Regions from separate parts of the Homo sapiens genome. Here region 2 is linked to region 1. The links come from fine-mapping of genetic effects on gene expression. A gene starts in region 1. The other region holds a variant in brackets. All regions are shown on one strand. Distances are between the middles of the regions.

Region 1 (15,188 bases):
TCAATCAGTTGTTTAATAACATCTCCTATAGTCAGCATCATCAGCTCAGCAGGGCTGAGATCTCCTGGAAAGTTAATATTCAACAATGTCAAAAATCGTATCATTCAATCAAGATTTTAAAATCTGATTTAGTAGCAGTTTTCCATCCGAAACCATACAAATATGCCAAATGAATAGCTCAAGTTCAGAAGATGCTAAATCTCTACTGTTTACAATTTGATCATATCTTTTGTATCTTTAAAACAAACGTGGCTTTACATATATATGGGAAAAGCTCCCTTTAGAAGCACATACTCTATGAGATTATTAAAAATAAATACAGGAAAGGATACAGGAGTAGAAACAATGTGAGGAGAAAGAACTTAATCACACAGGAAAGGACCAAAGTAATTCTCTTCCCTTTATCTCCAGAGGTGTAATTACTAATATGTGCATAATACTTTAGAGTTCATAAAGAACATTTAGATGCATGAATTCAGGTAATTCTCAGAACAGAGGTAGACAGAACAAGAATATGTGCCTGTTACATGAAGATGCTATCAAGGAGTAAAGTTGAAACTCAAACCCAGGTATCTGCCTAAGAATCTTAATGCATTTCTAAAATATTGTCTGTCCACCATCATGAACTTCTGGCAACTGGGGCTCTCGGTCTCATCCAAAGGCAACAGCAGAAGCTGACAGGTTCTTGTATGACGCCATCCACTCAAGCACAGTTCAAGGATTGGTTCAAGGATGGGCATATCTCTAAGCCAGGCCAATCTGAGCTCTTTTCTTCAAGGTAAAAAATGCCAGTCTTTTTCCAGGGACAAAAGCTGTGGGATATCAGCTTGGAAGCTGTCAGCAAGCAAGCTTCTCACCTGTAGAGCAGTGGTTCCCAACCTTTTTGATAAAAGGAACTGGTTTTATGGAAGATGATTTTTCCACAGACCAGGGGAGCAGGGTGGTTTTAGGATGATTCAAGTGCATTACATTTATTGTGCACTTTATTTTTATTACTGCATTGTTATATGTAATGAAATAATTATACAATTCACCATAACGAATTCTGTTCCCATAGAATCAGTGGGAACCCTGAGCTTGTTTTCCTGCAACTAGACACTCCCATCTGGGGGTGATGGGAGACAGTGACAGATCATCAGGCATTAGATTCTCATAAGGAGCACACAACCTAGACCCACCACATGCACGGTTCACAACAGGGTTCAGACTCCTTTGAGAATCTAATGCCACTGCTGATGTGACAGGAGGCAGAGCTTAGGCAGTAACATGAGTGATGGGAAGTGGCTGCAAATACTGATGAAGCTTCACTTGCTCGCCTGCTGCTCACCTTCTTCTGTCTGGCTCAGCTCCTAACAGGCCATGAACCGGTACTGGTCCGTGGCCCAGGGGGCTGAGGACTCACACTGCAGAGAAAGCTAAAACATAATGAAAGCGTGGATGGAAGGCCCTGGCAATTATGGAGCCCACACATTTACTTTATCTCATTTGAACCCTTACAGTAACACGGAGGGTAGGTACTGTTATCCCATTTTATAGATGTGAAAAATGAGGCTAAGGCAAGTTAACAAGCTATCGTAAACAGCAGAGCCAAGACTCAAATCCAGCTCTTTTCACCACAACTTCCATGCTTTTTTCACTGTAACACACTGCATCTAATTTAATGAGGCAAGGCTAACATATACACAACAATTTTTGAGAGAAATAAAGTCCATCTATACTCAAAGGCTAAATGCTTTCCAAACCATGTAACTCAGCACTTCCAGAGTTCTACAAAGGTGCCTCAGGGGCCATGCAACAGAGGTAGGACTGGTGGTGGTCATGGCAGAGGAAGGGAGAAGGGAAGAGGAAAATAAGGCATGGAGGAAAAAAAGGAGGAGGTCTCTTTATTTCCACCACAGCAGCTCTGCTTTCAGCTGTTTATATATTGAGGTTCTGTGTAAGAATTTATTTGGAGGGTAAAAGGGGATCGGCTGATAAGAACAGATAAGATTTGGAAACCACTTGTATAGCTCTTGAGTGTATCAAGAACTGGAAGAGTAAATGAGTAGGAAAAGACTTCATGAAGGAAATGGCACAGGGATCTTTAAAGATAGGGCAAGATTTGGACATGCAAAACAGAAGGCAATCCAGAAGAAATAATGTCAGGCATAGGAATTACCTATCTTTGTGTGAAACAGCACAGCCTAACTAAAATCCAGCTTTCTAACAGGGTGTAATAAAGAACAGATTACAGGGGACCCTGGCCACTAGGCAAAGGCATTGAAATGGAATGCAACAGACAGTGAAGAATTGCATATTCTCAACTTTGGAAATAAAAAGTTGAAAGTAACGTTTAAGGAAGGTAAGAATATTATCGGTACAAAGAATGATTCAGAAAGTGAAAAAGAATACATATAATATGGATACTACTCAAATGGCTCTTGAAAGGCAACATTGTTTTAAAAAACCCACAAAATCTAAGACAGGATCCAGTCCCAATGCCTACTGGCTGTGTGGTAACGGAAAAGATCGACAATTTTTTTTCTTTTTCTTTTTCTTTTTGAGACAGAGTCTTGCTCGGTCACCCAGGCTGGAGTGCAGTGGTGCGATCTCGGCTCACTGCAACCTCCACCTCCCAGGTTCAAGTGATTCTCCCGCCTCTGCCTCAGCCTCAGCCTCAGCCTCCCAAGTAGCTGGGATTAGATTACAGGCACCTGCCACCACGCCCGGCTAATTTTTGTGTTTTTAGTAGAGACAGGGTTTCACCACGTTGGTCAGGCTGGTCTCCAATTCCTGACCTCAAGTGATCCACCCGCCTTGGCCTCCCAAAGTGCTGGGATTACCGGCATGAGCCACCGCGCCTGGCCAAGATCAACAACTTTTGAGTGCCCATTTCCTTGTCTGTAAAATTGGGGTAATACATCCAAATTTCACAAAACCATTCTAAGACTCAAATAAATAATGTATATGAAAGCTGAAATACCATTCAAATATTAGTTAGTGATGAAGGTGGGTTAGGAGGTTGGCGGCCAGAATGAAGAGGAATAAACTATATCAAGAAGTAATTTCTAAGTAAGAATCAACATGACTTGGTGACAGAAGAAACTAAAAGAATCCTGGTAGATTGAGAAGGAGCAAGTTAGAGTGAGATAACAAATTAATTTAGGGCATGCAAATATGACAAGACTTAATCTAAGGTAACTTGGACACTTAGAATTGTTGCTTGGAAGAAAGAAAAATAACAGTTAATGTCAAGAAGCATAGGGATTAACGATGTATTTATTTTTCATTTTATGTTTTTTGAGGTCACAGATACAGCCTGACCAGCCAGCTCCATATCTAAGTATAATTTTGGTCTGGGAAAGTTACTTAACTCTTTGAATCTCAGCTTCTTCATCTGTAAAATGGAAATGATACCGACTTCAAAATACAAGCTCAATAAATGGTAGCTATTATTCTGACAACAATTACCATGATTAGACCAGCTGGTCAAATGAAATAGGAACAGAACCTGTGAGATACAGAAATAGGAACAGAACCTGTGAGAGAATATTTCAAATTTGAATCCGTCCTGTTGAAAAACCAAAGGTGGAATTGTTCATTGCTAACTCATGATGTAATAAAAATGGGAATAATTGCATGCACAACTCTTACACTGAATCCAAGGATAATTAAGGTTTTTTTAATATCTTAAAATAAGGCTTTAAAAGAAACTCTCTAACACGTCAAATGTGTCGTGAAACAAATCTTAACAAATGAAAAGTCCTACAACCCGTTAAATCGACGTTAACTCCTCGGAGGGCATATATTGGAATAATGGTTTCCCTGCCATTCAAACAAGACACCACGTGACTGCCAAAGAGGAAGAGAGGAAGGGTAGGGTGCTTCAAAAAGCAAAACAGGAAAAACGAGAAGGCTCGGGGACCAGAATGGACACACTGACCCTAGGTGGCGGGGCGACTGGACTGGGTAGCGGATTCTCGCGGTAAAAGTTCGGTTCAGCATTTGATTGCCTGGGCGTTCGCCCCTTTCGGACCACCCCTTTCCCCCATCTCCTTCCCCTTTCGCACCTTTCCGCTTCTGCCTCATTTCTGCGCCGCCGTAGCAGAGCCACCAGAGATAAAAATGCAGCCACAAACTCAGACCACGGGGAAAGCTGACAGCCACAAAACAATCCCGCCTGTCGTAAAATGTCGGTCAATGTATCGTAAAGCTCTTCCCGGAAGCCGACGTGCACAAAGCCACGCCCCGCCCCGTGTTGCAACTAACAGGGTAGCAGGCGGCCCGTGAGGCCCCTAGGCTGCGATCCTGCCCCGGGTCTCAGGGATGGAGGATGGGAACGTCTGAACGGAGTGGCATCTTGGGGTTAGAAAGCTCGACCTGGGCAGTACAGCTATGGGACAGAGTTCCTGGATAGAGGCTGCGCCAGGAAGCCTAAGTGAAAGGGTGGAAGTGGATGGTCTCTCATGGGGGGGAGTGGGAGCCCAGGGTCGTCACATCCGGGGAGGGTGGGTGGGAACGCGAATGGGCGAGACCACGGAGGAGGAACCCTCCCATGTTGTGGAAACTAACTGAGGGCCTGGAAGAGACCAGGCGGGAATCGAGTAAGAATCCGAGGTGCAGGCTTTGGGACCAGGTGGTCACCTTGGTCTTAGATGAATGGCACATATGATCGGTAACCATCGTGAAAGCTGTGGATGTCTCTTGTGGAAGGAAAATAACATCTCGGGACCCTAAACTCTGCCAAAGAAAAAAGTTAAGCTTAGGGCCGGGCGCAGTGGCTCACACATGTAATACTAGCACTATGCCCATCTCAGGAGGCCAAGGCCAGCAGATCATCTGAGGTCTGGCATTCAAGACCACCCTGGTCAACATGGTGAAACCCTGTCTCTACTAAAAATACAAAAATTAGCCAGGCGTGGTGGTGCACGCCTGTAATCCCAGCTACTTGGGAGGCTAAGGCAGGAGAATCTCTTGAACCCGGAAGTGGAGGTTGCAGTGAGTGGAGATCATTCTCTGTTGTCCAGCCTAGACGACAGAGCGAGACCCTGTCTCAACAACAACAACAACAACAAAAAGTTAAGCTTGTGAACTGAGTCACGCAAAAACTGCCTTCCTTCTGTTCCTAAACAGCTGCAAAGACAGAAGCCCACATATCTCCCTAGGTGGCCTCCCAGAGGAGTTGCTCACAGGGAAATTCCTTGTGAGTGGCAGAGTCTTTACCTTACAACACTTCTGTTGAATTCCACCCTGACCATGCAAATTTACAGTAGGTAGGGGACAAGGACAAGACTAGAAATCACCCTTCAGTCCACCCCAAGAAAAATGCATATTTGACTCCTTCCTCTATGTTTACTTTGTCTTCTGTAAAAGGCAGATTTACTGAGTGTGAAATGAATGCATAGTTGTTCCTCTTTCCCCTTCTGTCTGCTCTTTCCCTTTAAATATTGAAGTCCTCAAAACCCTCTTTGGAAAAACCACAGGCCACAGATTCCATGATAACTTATGTCTCTTTTTCCTGGGTGTGTCCTCAACCTTGGCAGAATAAACCTCCAGACTGAGACCTGTCTCAGACACTGTTTGGTTTACGTTCTCCAGAAAAATACACAGGCACAAAATTTTGCAAAATTTGGAGGCAGGACTTGGGATGTTTTCCTGAAACCCATCTATGATCTCCTTTGTCCATGGGCTGGAGATTAAGAACCTCTCCCATTAATAAAGACAGGAATATGTACCCTACTAGAATTGAGGCAACAACGAGGCTTTGACCCCACTATGACACTGAAACTGGCCTTGCTAAGCTTTGTAACTTCCCAGCCTGCCAAGTTCAGTGGTATTTGTCTGACCTCATTGTCATCCTATACCAATGAACATAAGTTCTCCTCTGTAAACCGAAAATAATTCTCAGCCCAGGGCATTCCAAAGTTAAACTGAAAAACTAGCTCAGGCCATGATGGGAAGTGGGGTTGGACATGCCTCCTTATTCCCTCCTCCTTTTTAGAATTCAGGAGCTGCTAACCAGTGTTAACATCAACACAGAGACCTTAAGGCTGATAGAGCACAGAACCGACTCTTAAAGTCTGATAAGAAACATTTACGGCCGGGCGCGGTGGCTCATGCCTGTAATCCCAGCACTTTGGGAGGCCGAGGTGGGCGGATCACAAGGTCAGGAGATCAAGACCATCCTGGCTAACATGATGAAACCCCGTCTCCACTAAAAATACAAAAAATTAGCCGGGCGTGGTGGTGGGCCCCTGTAGTCCCAGCTACTTGGGAGGCTGAGGCAGGAGAATGGCGTGAACCCGGGAGGCAGAGCTTGCAGTGAGCCGAGATTGCACCACTGCACTCCAGCCTGGGCGACACAGTGAGACTCCGGCTCAAAAAAAAAAAAAAAAAAAAGGAAACATTTACAATCTATTCTCTCTGAAGCCTGCTACCTGGAGGCTTCCTCTGCATGATAAAACCTTAGTCTCCACAACTCTGTGTCTTAACCCAGACATTCCTTTCTGTTCATTTCAGGTCTATAGATAATAACTCTTTCAACCAATTGCCAGTCAGAGAAAACTGAATCTGCCTGTGACCTGAAAGTGTTGCCCCCTGACCCCACATCAATGCTTTGAGTTGTCCCACCTTTCTGGTTGTTCTCTGTGGGATATGCGTGAGGGGAGAAGAAAAGACACATACACAATACCTTTAAGGGTAAACGACCTTTATCCCATGTAAATGGCAATGCAGATATAATAAGCAAATTGCAATGGGAAGGGTAGAAGGGAAAGTATATGTGTATACACACACACACACACACACACACACACACACACCCACCCATCAGACTATGGAGGATTTATCACAAGACCAAGAAGCAACAGCCTGGGTTCCAGACTTGGACACTACACTCACCAGACTATGGAGGATTCACCACCAGACCGGGAAGCAACATCCTGGGCTCCAGAGTTGGGCACTACACTCACCAGACTATGGAGGATTCACCACCAGACCAGGAAGCAACAGCCTGGGCTCCAGAGTTGGCCACTCCTCCTTGCACAGATGAGGATAGGTCTCCTGAAGCTTCGGCTGGGCCTGGGACCCTAGCTCTTTTTGTAACAAGTTGTTTGGCATGAGGCCCAGTCACAAGGGCCCTTCACAACCAGGCTCAAGGAACACAAAAAGGTCAACTTGTTTTTGCTATTGTCTATTGTTTTTCAATAACTAATGTATAGGAATAGATTGAAATAGAGATTTCTCTGAAACAGCGCTGGATGAAAGCCTCAAGGGACTCACAAAACTTGTTCCAGGACTTGGTGACTATTGTTTGTGTCCAGGTTCAATTGAATTCAGATTTAATATTTAACTTTTCCTCCATGCTGGACCAAACCAATATACATCTTACATGTAGTAATGTCTTATAACTCCCTAAAATGTATAAAATCAAGCTGTAACCTGACCACCTTGGACACATGTTCTCAGGATCCCCTGGGGCTCTGTCACAGACCATGTGAGGTAGGAAGTGGGACTCTGTTCTGGAGGCAGAGTTTGGACACTGGATCAAGTTGAGGACTAGCTGAAACAGGGCAGGGGTGGAAGCAACTTTCCATAAGATGCCCACCAGTATGCCATGTCAGTTTACTATTGCCGTGGCAACACCTGAACATTACCCTCCCCTTTCCATGGCAATGACCTGATGACCTGGAAGTTACCATCCTCATTCTTGACATTTCTGCGTAAATTGCCCCTTAATTTGAATACAGTTAAAAGTGGGTATAAATATGACTGCAGAACTGCCTCTGAGCTGCTCTTCTGGGCACTGCCTGTGAGTAGCCCTGCTCGGCAAGGAGCAGTCCCTCTGCTGCAGCTGTGCACTGCTGCTTCAATGCAAGTTGCTATTTAACACCATCAGCTCACCCTTGAATTGTTTCCTGGGCAAAGCCAAGAACCCTCCCAGGCAAAGCCCCAATTTTGGAGCTTGCCTGTCTTGCCTCAGTTGGTCAATCATGGCTCAGAATAAATCTCTTCAAGTATTTTACAGAGTTTGACTCTTTTTGTCAACTCTTCCATGAACATCTTTTATGACAGGGCCCTCCAACTCTCTTGGTTTCTCTTCTCTTTCTTTTGTGAACTCTGTCTCTGCCTCACCTCAGAATACTAGTGTTCCATGGGGGTCACTCAGCCTTGTCTCTCCAAGGTGATCCCCAGAGCACCACGTGTTTGCTCCCAGGTTTCCAGTCCAACCCCAACTTTTCCCCTATTTGATATCTTGTTAGATTTGGGTGTCTAATAGGCATCTCAAACTTAACATGTCCCAAACAGAACTCTATTATTACTCCAGATCTGCTCTTCCTTATCTAATGGCACCATCCTCTACCTCTTCCCTGTTTTATCTCAGAGAGGGGAGGGAGATAGGTGGTTAAAGGTATAATTTTAAATAGGGGTTACAGTAGGCCTTATTGACAATGTGATATTTGAGCTAATACTTGATGTGTAGATATGTGGGAAAGAGTATTTCTGGCTAAGATAATGGTTAGTGCAAAGGTCCTAGGTGAAGGTCAGGCGCAGTGGCTCACGCCTGTAATCCCAGCACTTTGGGAGGCTGAGGCAGGCAGATCACAAGGTCAAGAGATCAAGACCATCCTGGCCAACATGGTGAAACCCTGTCTCTACTGAAAATACAAAAATTAGCTGGGCATGGTGGCACGCGCCTGCACTCCCAGCTACGCGGGAGGCTGAGGCAGGAGAATTGGGAGGTGGCAGTTGCAGTGAGCCTAGATCTCACACCACTGCACTCTAGCCTGGTGACAGAGCGAGACTCCATCTCAAAAAAGAAAAAAAGTCCTAGGTGAGAGGATGTCTGGGGTGTTCAAGGAGACTGAGGAGGCTGACATCACGGGAGCAGTGGGTGAGGCAATGTGAAAGAGAGGTCAGAGGAGTGGCGCATGGGACAGGGGGCAGTGCAGCTCATGTAACACCTTGTGGGCCATTGAAAAGCCTTTGGCTTTTACCCTAATTGAGATGGGGAGCCACTGGTGTTTTTAGCAGAGAATTGAATGGATCTGATCTGTAATTTAAAAGCATGTCTATTTGCTGCATTGAGAATAGACTGTGGGAGGGGGTTGGTGTGGAAGTGGGGAGATCAGGTGGGTGGCGGTTACCATAGCCAGGCCAATGATTCCCAAACTTTGCTGCAATTGGAATCACCTGGAGAGCAGTGAAAAATTCCCAGTGCCCAGATTACATCCCACACCTATTAAATCAGAATATCAAGGGGTGGGAGTCAGGCATTAGCATGTTTAAAAGATCCTGGGTTATTCCAACGTGCAGCAAAACTTAGGAACCACTGAATGAGGCCAGAGATTATTGAGACTCAAATCGGGGTAGTCAGCAGTGAAGGTGGTGAGAAGTGTTCAGATTCTGAATATAATTTGAAGATTTCAACAAGACTTTTTGACAGATCAGATGTGGAATATGAAAGGCAGACAGCAACATCAAATGTGACACCAAAGCTTTTTGACCAAGGGACTGGAAAAATGTAGTTATCATTAGATGAAATGGAGAAAATTAGGTGGAGAGGTGTTTCAAGGGACTGGCGGGGATTGGTTTGAACTTGTATTTTCGGATGACTAGTGAACAGGAAGACACGAAAGAGGTTGACACTGGATATCAGTCGAGAGCCATCGGTATGTGAACGAAATTGAAAGCTACGAAACAGGGTGGCTGTGGAAAGGAAAGAGACCGAAGATGAAGCCTTGGGGTATTTTATTATTAACAGGTTGAGAAGCGAGGGAATAACCAGTGAAGGAGACTGAGGAGCACTTCCAGGGAGATGGGATGAAAACTAGGGGAGTGGTTATCTGAAAGCCAAGTGTAGGAGGTTTGTCAAACAGGAGGGAATGATCAACCAGGTCAAATGCTCCTGATGGCTCAAGAAAGATAAAGGTTGAAAATTGACCAGGATCATTGTGGACTTTGACAAGAACAGCTTTAATGGGATGGGAAGGGTGAAGGCTTGACTGGAATAGGTTTATATTAGCTTGAGAGGAAAGGAATTTGAGACAGTAAGTAGAGACAACTCTTTTGAGGAGTTGTGGGGTTTTGTTTGTTTTTTTGGAGACAGGGTCTTGCTCTGTCACCCAGGCTGGAGTGCAGTGGTACAATCACAGCTCACTGCAGCCTCGACCTCCCAGGCTCAAGTGATCCTTCCATCTCAGCCCCTCAAGTAGCTGGGACTATAGGCATGCACCACCATGCCTGGCTAATTTTTATTTTTATTTTTTGTAGAAACAGGGGTTTCCTTATGTTGCCCAGACTGGTCTTGAACTCCTGGGTTCAAGTGATCCTCCTGCCTCAGCCTCCCAAAGTGCTGACACCATGCCCAGCCTAGGAGTTTTGTCATAAAGAAGTGCAGAGAAATATACTAATACCTGGCAGGGAAATGGAGGTCCAGGGAGTGTTTGTTAAGGTGGAATGAATGACATCAAATCTGTTCACAGATGGGAATAATCCAGTGGAGAGTGAAAGTTTGGTGAATTAGAGAAGAGGAGGAAGTACTCTACATGGTTCTTCAGTTAGAGAGAGGGATGGAATCTGGTGCACAGAGAAGGGATTGGCCTTTAATGGGTGCATGGATAGTTCATCTAGCAACAGGCTGGAGGGCAGAGCACCGGATAGGTGGTTGGGGGTGATGATGAGGCTCTGTGGACGGTCTCATTGCTTCAGTGTTTTCAGTGAGCTCAATGGAAATTCAGCCTGAGAGAATGGAGAAACATCTAACAGGCCTAGCATTCAGGCGTCCAATAGCAGGTGCCAAGGACTACCATAAAGAACCCCAGAGGCTGGACCCAGTGGCTTACACCTGTAATCCCAACACTTTGGGAGGCCAAGATGGGAGGATCGCTTGAGCTCAGGAGTTTGAGTTCAGCCTGGGTAACATAAGGAGACCTCATCTCTACTAAAGTTTTGTTTTGTTTTTGTTTTTCTTTTTTTGTTTTTTGTTTTTTTAAGCTAAGTGTGGTGGCACATGCCTGTAGTCCCAGCTGCTTGGGAGGCTGAGGTGGGAGGATCACTTGAGCCCAGGAGGTTGAGGTTGCAGTGAGCCGTGATAACGCCACTACACTTCAGCCTGGGTGACAGAGTGAGACCCTGTCTAAAACAAACAAACAAAAACAAGCAAACAAATAAAGGAACTCAGGAAGCTTTATTTTTTTATTTTTTGAGATGGAGTCTCCCTTTGTCGCCCAGGCTGGAGTGCAGTGGCCTGATCTTGGCTCACTGCAACCTCTGCCTCCCATGTTCAAGCAATTCTCCTGCCTCAGCCTCCTGAGTAGCTGGGACTACAGGCACACACTGCCATGACCGGCTAGATTTTGTATTTTTAGTAGAGACAGGGTTTCACCATGTTGGCTAGGCTGGTCTCAAGCTCCTGACTTCAGGTGATCTGTCCACCTCGGCCTCCCAAAATGCAGGGATCACAGGTGTGAGCCACTGGGCCTTGCCCCAGGAAGCTTTAAAAATGCTCAAAATTAATTTTAATAATTAAGTAATTTAGTAGCATTTGTGGTTAACTGTTGAAGCTAAGAAATAGCCAGTAGAGGGAGAGCTGAGCACACGTGACATGAATGTAAGCGTAAGGTGTGATTTTGCCTAGAGAGATCAGTATAAGACTCAGCATCCAGGATGGCATTTGTGCTGACTTTCTTTGTTCTGAACTTTAGCCTGGTGTTTCTGTGGTTTTCTTATGGAGGAGGGACGTCATCTTGCCAAAAGTTCAAAGCAGTTTTTAAGACCACAGTCTAAACATTTATCTTCAATTCTTTCCCTGTTCTGACCTCTTTACCTTCTGAATCCCCTCTTCAGACTAAATACATACCTAGAGTACTGAGGGTTGTCTTGGTAATGACTGAGTTGGCCTTTAAAGGTAACATACACCCTTGGCCCAGCACAGTAGCTCATACCTGTAATCCCAGCACTTTGGGAGGCCAAGGTGGGCGGATCATATGAGATCAGGAGTTCGAGACCAGCCTGGCAAACATGGTGAAACCCTGTCTCTACTAAAATTAAAAAAAAAAAAAGTCAGGCATGGTGACGCACCCCTGTAGTCCCAGCTACTCAGGAGGCTGAGGCAGGAAAATCTCTTGAACCCGGAAGACGGAGGTTGCAGTGAGCTGAGACGGCGCCACTGCACTCTAGCCTGGGTGACAGAGCAAGACTGTGTCTCACAAAAAAAAAAAAAAGGTAACACACACCCTGAAGCTGAGGGTTCAAGGGACAACTTTTTCCCTGTATGTGATGTGATGGTTTGGGTTGCCAGACACAGCAAAGTGGAGTGGGTTTTATTTTCTTCTCTCCTGGACAGCACTTTCAAATTTTTGTTTTCTGGGTTTATTAAAAATATGAATTTAAAATTAGATGGGCGTGATGGAGCATGACCATGGTCCCAGCTACCCAGGAGGCTGAGGTGGGAGGATGGCTTGAGCCTGGGAGGTCGAGGCTGCTGTGAGCTATGATCACGCCACTGCACTCCAGGCTGGGTGACAGAGCAAGACCTTGTCTCTAACTAAATAAAGACATAAAAATATACGGATTTAAAATTTAAGTTCCAGAAAGAGGTGTAAAGCGGTATATCACTCATTTCTACACTCAAACAATCCAATGTTGTTTTATTTTTGGCAAATGTTATTTTTGGTGAATTTTAAGACTTTGGGTCAAGAATAACTTTATATTTATTATCTCATATCCTCCATCTCTCCCAGTCATGTCTTATAGTTGGGTGTCGGGGAGCCAGTGCTTTGTCTGTCTTGGAACTGGGGCATTTTTCCTGTCTGCTCCAGTGAACCAGTCATCTGAATATTGTTCACCCTCAGAGAAAAGATGCTGTGGAAGGATGCAGTGATGCACTTGGAAAGGAAAAAAGACATCTGTCTACTTGTAGGAACATGGCAGAGAAGGGTGCAAGATCCCCGTTTCATGTACCATTTAGATTTTTTTTTTTTTCGAGATGTAGTCTTGCTCCATCATCCAGGTTGGAGTGCAGTGGCGCGATCTTGGCTCACTGCAACCTCCACCTCCCAGGCTCAAGTGATTCTCTTGCTTCAGCCTCCTGAGTAGCTGGGACTACAGGGTTCTGCCACCACGCCTGGCTGATTTTTTTTTTTTTTTTGTATTTTTAGTAGAGTCAAGGTTTCACCATGTTGGCCAGGCTGCTGTTGTACTCCTGACCTCAAGTGATCTGCCTGCCTCAGCCTCCCAAAGTGCTGGGATTACAGGAGTGAGCCACCGTGCCTGGTGAATTTAGATTTAAGTGAAAGAAGACAGAATAAATCAGTATCTGTGGGAGGAGACCATGGTAAATAGCTCCCTGATGGCAAGTTGGTTTCACTTCTGCTGTGTAAACGTGGCTTTGTGATTGTGGCCCAAAGGGCTACGTACCCCAGCTGGTTCCAAATACCTGAACCAAGGAGAAGCTGCCACCATCTCCTCTGTGGACTCCTGTAACCAAACCAGAACTTTTTTTTTTTTTTTCTGTTCAGTGACATCTGGTAAGTTGTTTCTTTTATGTAATTTGTACTGTAACTTGTGGTTGATTTTTTAAAAATGGACCTTAATTTTTAGAACAGTTTTGAGTTTACAGGAATATTGAGAAGATAGTTTAGAGCATTCCCATGTAATTCCCACCCAACTTCCCCATTATCTTGTATTAGTGTGGTACATTTGTTACAACTGATGAACCGATACTGATACGTTATTCTTAAACTAAAGTCTGTGCTTGATTCAGATTCTTGGTTTTTATCTAACGTCTGCTTTCTACTGTGGCATCCTATCAGGATAGCACATTATATTTAGTTATGTTCCCTTAGGCTCCTCTTAGCTGTAGCGTTGTTTCTCAGACTTTCCTTGTTTTTGATGAATATGGCAGTTTTGAGGAGTACTGGTTGGGTATTTTGTAGGCTTCTCCTATTGGCATTTGTCTGATGTTTTTCTCATTATTAGACTGGAGTTATGGGTTTTGGGGAAGGAGTCCCAGAGTTAAAGTGCTGTTCTCATCACATCATATCAAGGGATAATATTGTCAACATGATTTAGGACTGTTGGTGTTGACCTTGACCACCTGGTAGAGGCAGCGCTTGTCTGGTTTCTCTGCTATAAGGTGATCCTTTCCCTGCTCCAATCTCCGCCGTGTTCTCTTTGGAAAGAAGCTGCTATGCACAGCACACACTTAAGGAGCAGGGAGTTTTATTCTACCTCCTTGAGGATGGAGTAGCTACGTAAATTATTTGGAATTCTTCTGTATATGGGACATTTGTCTCTTCTCTCTCCTTTGATTTTCTTAAAGCAAGTTATTTCTTGAGGGAAAGTGAATTTTACTTTTCTGTTTGCTTAAGTGAATTTTGGGGGTTTGGTTTGTTTGTTTTTGAGGCTTCGGTCTGTTACCCAGGCTGGAGTGCAGTGGTATGAACATGGCTCACTGTAATCTTCACCTTCTGGGCTCAAGTAATCCTCCTGCCTCAGCCTCCTGAATAACTGGGACTACAGATACATGCTGCCATGCCCAGCTAATTAAAAAAAAAATTGTAGAGATGAGGGTCTCACTTTGTTGCCAAGGCTGGTCTCAAGCTCCTGGGCCCAAGGGATCCCCTCTCCTCTCAGCCTCCCAAAGTGCTGGGATTACAGGCATGAGCCACCATGCTCAGGCTGTTTAAGTGAATTTTAAGGCTATGTAAAAAGGCCAGTGGGCTAGAAATGGGGAGAATCAGGTTTTAGTTTGAATTTTACAGAACAGTGTGATCTTAGGCAAGTCATTAATCATTCCTCCCAAAAGAAAACAGCTATTGCAGAAATTGCTGGCAGGTGTATGAATTCCTGATAAGGAGGGAAGTGTCATCTTATGCCTCATTAGCTTTAACAAGCTTGGGAGAGCAATATGAGAAGATTCAAATTCGTTTCGCTAGAATCTGCTAAAGTACGTTATGAAAATATCTGCTTATTTTGCTTACCTCTTTACCTAGGGAAGAAAGATGGAGAAAAACATGTCATCCTAAAGCCTCCCTTCTACTACGACTGCTTCTGGTGGCCACATTTCTAATTCTGAACACATTAGCCGATGTGTTAATGCTGAAAACATACCTCTTTTCCTTTAGAGATTTGGAGGCCCTTGTTTCACTTTTGCTTCTGAGCTAATGTGTTTAAATTGCTGCCTTGGGACATCCCTAGTTTGGAAG
Region 2 (8,000 bases), 51 kb before region 1:
TTATGTGCTAAGTGTCCTATACGAACATGAATGTGGCCTCTTGGTTCCCTAGTCTCCTATTCGTTTGGGTGAGAGGAAAGAATTCAAAATGAGGCAACATTTATGAACTTTTTCTGAGCTTTCTCAATAAAAAGACAATATTTATAATCCAAATTTCATGACTGGCAAATTAAATATAAACATACAACTGATGTAAGAAGAAACACAAATAATAATCAGTTACAAGGGAAACTAGGGAAATGCAAATTAATACCCTTAATTAAATAAAATAAAAATACTATAAAGCACCCAATTCTATAGAGGTTGTGATAAAACCAGTAAATGTTTACTTTAAACTGGTATAATCCCTTTGGAAAGCCATATCAATATTCATAGCAAAAACTGTAACATTTATTTATTTTCCCCTTGTTCCAGAAAGGATTTAAGAAGTATAATAATAATGAAAAGATGCTTAGACCCTTTACCATGCGTAATCCTTCTCCCAGATTATACTACTCTAAGAGATTACTTCAACAGCAGTAGAAAGTTCTATGAAGTTTAGCTGTAGTGGAGGCCAGGATAATTACATTTAAAAAAGGAAGAAGAAAGCAAAGAAACCTGGAAGCGACCTAAATTTCTAACAAGGCGAACAGTTTACTAAAAAAGACAAATTAAAATTGCAGAGTACTATGCTGCCATTAAGTTTATAACCATGAAGATTATTCTAAATCCTTAGGAAATGGAACATGAAAGTGCTAACAGCAAATTTGCTAGTGTATAAAATATACTGATACGTAAAGATGCACTCCAACTTTGTAAGGAAATTTTTGGAAAAATAATGTTAACTTGTTATTAATACATATATTGAAAGTGGTTTAGTAGTTTTACAGAGAAAACATTATTTTGCTCATGTAAATAGAATATTTTATGGCTAGAAATCAGGAAGAAACATAAGTTCTGGATAATTAGTAATATTCTACAGACTGTTGGGGGGGAGTATAAAATCACATGATCAAAAAAGAAGTGTATGAGATCATGGGAGTGGTGCTACACAGCAGAAACACAAGATGTAATACATTGACTAGAACGTGAAATCTCATAAGCTACCTCAGCACTGCATATGCCTAGTCTAAAATTTCAGTGATTTCAGTGGCTGTTAAGAATAAAAAGCAAGTTCCAATATAAAATAAATCTGAATCATTTTTCAATGTGGTATATACAAAGAAATGAGTAAAAAGGAAGTAGCAAAATATAATAAATATGAATGAGTTCTTACGCAGGCAGTCAGAGTAATAGTTTAGTAACACTCAATGCAAAACATAAAGTAACATAATGCATCTCAAGGAATTCTCCTCATGCTTACAAAAAAGTAAATGCTTTACTGAACCTCAGTCCACAGTAAGGTACGTTAAAAAAAAAATGAATTCTAACAGAAACGTGTGTGACAACAAATATCATAGTTAAAAGCACCAAAACTACATAAAAAATAAGAAAACAAAATGGAAAATACTATGAACATATTAGTCTTTGTACTAAAAAATCTAGCAAATGATCATATTCACAGTTAACTACATTATCAATCCTAAAGCATAAAAACCTGACATCACAGCTAGACTCTGGATGACTCTCTTCACCAATGGCCTTACTGTGTTAGGAACTGAGTCATCACTATCTTCAAAAAATAAACTGTCCTCAGACTCATCGAGGACATTACTAATTCCACATTTTGAAAGAGATTGCACCACTGCCTCTTGTTTTACAGTATTCCATTACATTTTAATCCACCCACCTATGTGTGAAGTAAGAGTGTCACTTCGAAATCTTAAGCCTACATCCACCTGTACCACTCCTCACTCACAAGCTCCATAAGTGATGTATTGATAGAGAAACATATGTGACAGTTGGGCCTCCTGAAATTAGAGCTTGTGGACTCTCCTATGGGCCAATTCTCCATAGGATAAGTGTAACGGGGTCATATCAGAAGAACTGAGAACAGCCAGGTTTCCTTAACAGGCCTCATATGTTGCTTATTAATAATGTCATGCCTTTCTTATCATATGACCTTTCGGTTGTATCATATAAGTGTTCTCCACTCTTCCTGTCATCACTCCTTTACATTTTTCCTATAGAGACTATTTCTGCTGCCCTTGTTTTCTTCAAGTCCTTATTTTCTCAGTTGTTGGTAGGCCAGGATAATGTCGCATAGTGGTATTTAAAAGTCTATAAAATTAAGCATTTAATAGTATAGCAATGTCTCTGCTGCTTTTGACTCACTGGTTACAGCAGAAAGAAATTTAAGCCGAAAACGAAGGGAGAAAATGCAAATTCTTCATCTGATTGCCTGTGGGATCCATGCCTTGTTACTTTCGGTATTTCTGGATGTGAAATTGCTAACTATTTTGTGCTATCTGTTGCCATGCTCTGCGGCTGAGAAGCTGCATCTTTACTGCTTTCTGGTTGCTTGAGTCAGTTATACATGCAAATCGTCTTTTTCTTTTGTCTCTGTGAATGCTATTTACTGCAGCTTTGTTGTCTAGTGTATTAGTTTAGATTTTGAAACAATCACAAAGTTACATAAAAAGTCCCAAGTGCAGTACAAATAATTATTTTCCTGAACTATTTGAAAGTTAATTTGCAAATAAGATGTCCCAACGCCCTGAGAATACTTTAAATATTTCCTACGAGGATATTCTCTTACATAACCACAAAAGAACCATCAAAATGAGGAAGTTAACATGGATGCTTCACTAGTGTCTAATCCTAGACCCCATTTGAGTTTCACCAGTGTCCCATTAAAGTCCTTTACAGCCAAAGGACCCAGTTCAGAACATTGTATTTAATTGTCATGTCTGTGTAGTCTCCTTCAAGTTAGAACTCTTTTCTTCATCCTGATACTTTTGAAGATTACGGGCCAGTTATGTTTTAGAATGTTTCTCAATTTTGTTTTGTCTAACGTCTCCTGACTATTGGATTCAGATCGTGAAGTTCTGGCTGAGTAACAGAGAAGTGATGCTACGTTCTCATACCCTCTATCAGGCAGCCTAGAATTGTGATTTGTCCTATTACTGATAATGTTCACTTTGATCAGCTGCCAGGTTTTCCCACTATTAGGTTATTCTCTTTCACTCTGCAATTGCTAAGTATGGTGGGGGAGATACTCTGCAACTATGTACAGTCGGTAGTTGGTTCTAGTTCTGTTAGCAGGCAATAAGTAGTTAACATTCTACACCGAGTGTCACCAACACACTTACACTGTATACTGAGTAATTGCTCTTAGGGAAAATACAAGGTTAGGTTCCCGTGAGGCCCTGGTCACAATATTTTTGTCGACTGTTTAATACATAACCTTGTTTTATGTGTGTTTCTGTTTAAACACACCTTATCTGATATATATTGTTGATTCATGAACACTGAACTCATGGCCAATGGCACATCACTCATGCCTGAACAAAGCTTACATAACATGTATTCTCTCCAGAAGGCACGTCACAGCCTTCCTGCACTCAGGAGCAATAGCCAGCACTTCAGTACTATGCTTGGGGGCCATACTAAATGGCGAATCCTCAAAAAACTGCACAAAACTTTGAAAAACATGGCATGAAACAGACTGCAAGAAGGACATTGGCTCCCAGTGTGAGCGCTGAAATGAGAAGGCAGAGCACCACCTGTTTGACCTCAGCTGGTGACAATGCTGGGCAACTCAAATTTTTCACTGCTAAGCATGCCCAAGAATGACTGTGAAAATGCCAGTATTGGATTTGAGTCACAAACGAATTTTAGTGAGTAGGAAAATTTGCAAATAAGGAATCTGAGAATGATGAAGACTGACTGCAAATATTATGTTTCTGAATCACACTTACAATTTATTAATTAGGAATATTGGTATAAACTAGTGGATTCCTATTTTATTCAGCTGGTTATAATCTGTTAATATCAATATTTATTTTGATGCTCAAATTGTCCCAGATTTGGCCAATGGGAGCCCTTTAAGCCAGATTCCCTTTTCTTCTTTGAATACTTCCTTACTTTCTGGCACAAGAGGTTCCTTTTAGTAATGGAGAGCATTTAGAGACCAAGATCTAGAAACCAGCTGTGCTCACTGGAAACTAAGTACACTGATTGCTATAAAACACACACACACACACACACACACACACACACACACACACAAAATATGTACAGTTGTCCCTCGGTATCCAAAGGGGATTGGTTCTAGGACTCCCAAAGACACCAAAATCCATGGATGCTCAAGTCCCTCATATAAAATGGTGTAGTATTTGCATATAACCTATGCACATCCTCCTGTATACTTTAAATCACCTCTAGATTACTTTTTTTTGAGATGGAGTTTCACTTTTGTCACCCAGGTTGGAATGCAATGGCATGATCTCTGCTCACTGCAACCTCCGCCTCCCAGGTTCAAGTGATTCTCCTGCCTCAGCCTCCTGAGTAGCTGGGATTACAGGCACCTGCCACCACGTCTGGCCATTTTTTGTATTTTTAGTAGAGACAGGGTTTCACCATGTTGGCCAGGCTGGTCTCGAACTCCTGACCTCAGGTAATCCGCCCACTTCGGCCTCCCAAAATGCTGGGATTGCAGGCGTGAGCCACCACGCCTGGCCTCTAGATTATTTATTGATATCTAATACACTGTAAGTACTATAACTAGTTGTTATACTGTATTGTTTAGGGAGTAATGACAAGAAAAAAAAATCTATACATGTTCAGTACAGATGCAATAACCACCCACTGTTTTTTCTGAATATTT[TC/C]CATCTGCAGTTGGTTGAATTTGTAGAATGCAGAATCCGAAGATATGAAGGGCCACCTGTGTTGTTATTCATTACATTTACACTTATTTCTACATGTACCTATATGTTGGAAACCATGAGTTCACACCACTATCTCCTGTTCCAAAACACCACAGTGCTCACACTAATTTTCTCCTTTTTCAACTTTTGTAATTGACTTCTAAGATAACAAAAAAAACCTAGCACCCAGTATCCTTAATATATCTGCTGATTAGATCAACTCCCTGTAAGTAACTGGTCTTTTCTTGCTGTCTCCTCTTCTGCATATACCCCCAACCCACCCCTAGAGGACGTACAGCTCTGACATCCTGTACCAGATCTGCCCTTGGTGGGAATGAATGCCCTTTTCGCCACATTCTGACTTCATCAGCCTGCACCACGCCTCTGCCTCCTGCATGTGAATGAGTGACCTTCTCACCCTGCTCTGGACCCTGTGGCTCCCTGCCTCCTGCATGTGGATACCTACACTGCTCCGCACCACCTAATGTCCTTTGGACTGAATTGCTTCAGAAGGGTTGAACAACAAGGGGAAGGGCCACACAAGCAATTTCAACAGTTGATTTTTCTATTAAAATCTCCTTAGTATTCTTAGGTGTATTTTTAAAAATAGAGACCATATAGGCAATTCAGATCCTGCAGTTTGGCCAATGATTTTAAAACTGAGAAATCAGTATGCAGCAGAAGTATCATGTAAATGTCCTTTGACCTTCAAGCAAGTCAGTTACTTTATATCCTTCATAATTCTCCTTAAGTAGTTAATTCGGCTTGTTTTCAGTGTTCATTGCTTTACATGATCAGTCACACAGTTTCTGTGCTCAGTGGAGTCCTGCTCTAGCAGCTGATTGTAATGCATTTGCAGTCTCCTTCTGGCCTTGCATTTGTAATATTGGAACCTGGGTAGTTTTTGGCAGGGTGGTGGGAATGTGTGTGTGGGAATTGGCTTTGTTAGGATTGTAGGTATACGGGTAACTTTATGGCTTCTAAAATTTTTCTGTGATGTTATGTTTCCAGTATATATGTATGTATGTATGTAAGTATAAATAGGTAGATAAGGTTCCTGATTGTAAATGAGATCTTACTTTCTCTTTTCTAGGAAGAAAGCAGTTCAGATTATTTTGTTTTCTTCAAGCCATCAGAAATATGTCACCTTTCCTCCACATTTACATTAATATCTGTAAAGAGTGATTGTTGCTACTTTTTCTTTCAGAGGCTCTAGAACAGAGATTGCACACACGGCCACACTTCTTATGCTCATACCCATTACTGCATCTAGATGGAAGCAGACCTGGAAGAGGAAACACTGAACTAGACCATAAGCTGCTCGGAAGCAAGCACCATGCCTATTGACCGTCATGGCTCTGTCTCCAGGCTCATGAATGAATGGGTAGATAAATAAATACGTTATTGGCAAAGTGGCTTAGACATGCTATGATTTCCATCCCTCCCTATTTACAGATAGCATTCCAGTTATCTTATTTCCATTAAGAAAAATCCAAAACCCTCAATATGAAATCAGACTATTTCCATGAGAAATAGTAAACAGACTAGTCACCAACTATTTTAGGAATAAAAGATAACACACTACCTCTGTACTCGGTACACTCGAGTCCATGGAGGCACGAGGGCTAGGATCCGAGCCACCAATTCAACCAGGTCACTAGGAGAGTAACTCTTATATCTTCCTGATTTCCAAAGCTCATAAAGCCCGGTCCCACGAATCACCAGGGTAGGATAGAGTTTCAGCCCATCGGGACGAAAAGCAGGGTTCTCAAAAAACTCCTGTGAATAGAGAACAGAAAATGACTTCTCCATTAGTTATGCAGAGATCACCGAGGGTGAAATCTCAACCCCTGACAGCTTCTCTGGCACACCCAGTAGGCCCTGGGGCAGCCTTTGCTTCTGACCAGGTAGGGCGTACAGACAGAACAGAAACTCCTTGTTTCTGTAGTCTCACTGGGGCAAAGCAAGTGTGTGCTGGACTGCACTAGGCCCTCACCATTCCAGCTTGTCTCCTGCACAATCTCATCTCATGCCACCCCTCACCATCTGGCCTTTCCACTCCTGCAAAGGCAATTTCCTTTGCCTGGAAAGTTCATCAATTTTTCTTTATCTAGCTAATCTTCAGGTTTCAGTTTGAATGCCACTTCTTCAGAGAGGCCCCTCTGACTTTCAAATACTAGCTGTCCCACTTAAAAAAAATCCCACTGAACCCAGTATTACCTCTTTCTTATCATCACATGACAATCTATTCAATGTCTGCCTTCACCTCTAGAGTATACCTTTCTTTAATAATGGAATATACTTAATTGCTTACATTTCAAAAGTTGTGACAGAGATCATCTAGCTTACAAAATTTAAAATGTTTACTATAGGGCCCTTTAGAGGAAAAGTTTGCTGATCCCTGGATATGACTACTCTGTCCCTAAACCAACTGGCACCATTCCTATCCTGGGCTACACCTTGTCCATTTGTTATCTGGACACTGAGCAATAGATCTAACTCAACTACTTTTGGCAAGTCATTTCTTATACTACATCACCCCAGCTGGCTGCTTTCTTTCTTTATTTTGGGATGTAGCAATGAGACACCAGGCATTCTCCTTTCCATGACTTTGCACTGATAATTTGCTCTAATCTTGTTTTGCATAATATATTTTGGAGAAATGAAAGTGGACTCACAGTCCCCTCTCACTCCCACCTTGGTGGGAGTATCTACTCAGCTGGCAGGGCTCTATCTTGTAAACTGGAAAAATACTTTTTATCTTTGCCACATTAGTCTTCCAAAGCTCTTCATTGTTTAACTTGCTTTACAAAGAAATATAACAATAGACTTTTCCATCTCTCATTGACATCTGTCACGTTCTTAAATGCTGTATTCTTTATGTACTATTTAGTTTCAGAGATCTTCTTCTGTAATTGTGTGATTTTCCTGTAACATTTATATTTTAAAGAATCATCAGGTCTTTAATAAATATTCTGCAGCCATCCCACAAAGAGCACGTATGGAAGCCATTGTTCACCCAGTCTGAATCTACATTTGAACATGGGATTTAGAAAAGTATTTCTGGTGCTTGTATAATAAGTTTCGGAGACATACAGGCTGATACATTCCTTTGGAAAGAATGAAAATTGATTGGTTCTCAATTTTCAGTTACACTAGAGAATTTAAAAAAGTGTTTATTTTCTTTCCCTCCAAAACCACACTAAAGTAACA

What was found. PIP is the estimated chance that this variant, and not a neighbour inherited with it, causes the effect.
Region 2: its variant is fine-mapped to the expression of ELP3 in blood mononuclear cells (TOPMed, PIP above 0.99).

What each region holds. Positions count from the first base shown.
Region 1 is chr8:28,082,095-28,097,282 of GRCh38, reverse strand. ELP3 (elongator acetyltransferase complex subunit 3) reads right to left here and starts at 4,144. Exons shown (of 15, transcript NM_018091.6): 1 at 4,050-4,144; 2 at 1-64. The coding sequence starts at 4,068. It overlaps NUGGC (nuclear GTPase, germinal center associated), which reads left to right and starts at 13,347. Exons shown (of 19, transcript NM_001010906.2): 1 at 13,347-13,508. RefSeq lists enhancers at 4,469-4,518, 4,010-4,563.
Region 2 is chr8:28,136,264-28,144,263 of GRCh38, reverse strand. It overlaps ELP3 (elongator acetyltransferase complex subunit 3), which reads right to left. Exons shown (of 15, transcript NM_018091.6): 10 at 6,373-6,566. Among named protein-coding and RNA genes, the nearest start is that of ELP3, 47 kb to the right of the region's middle. The variant TC/C (reference allele first, on the strand shown) is at 4,748.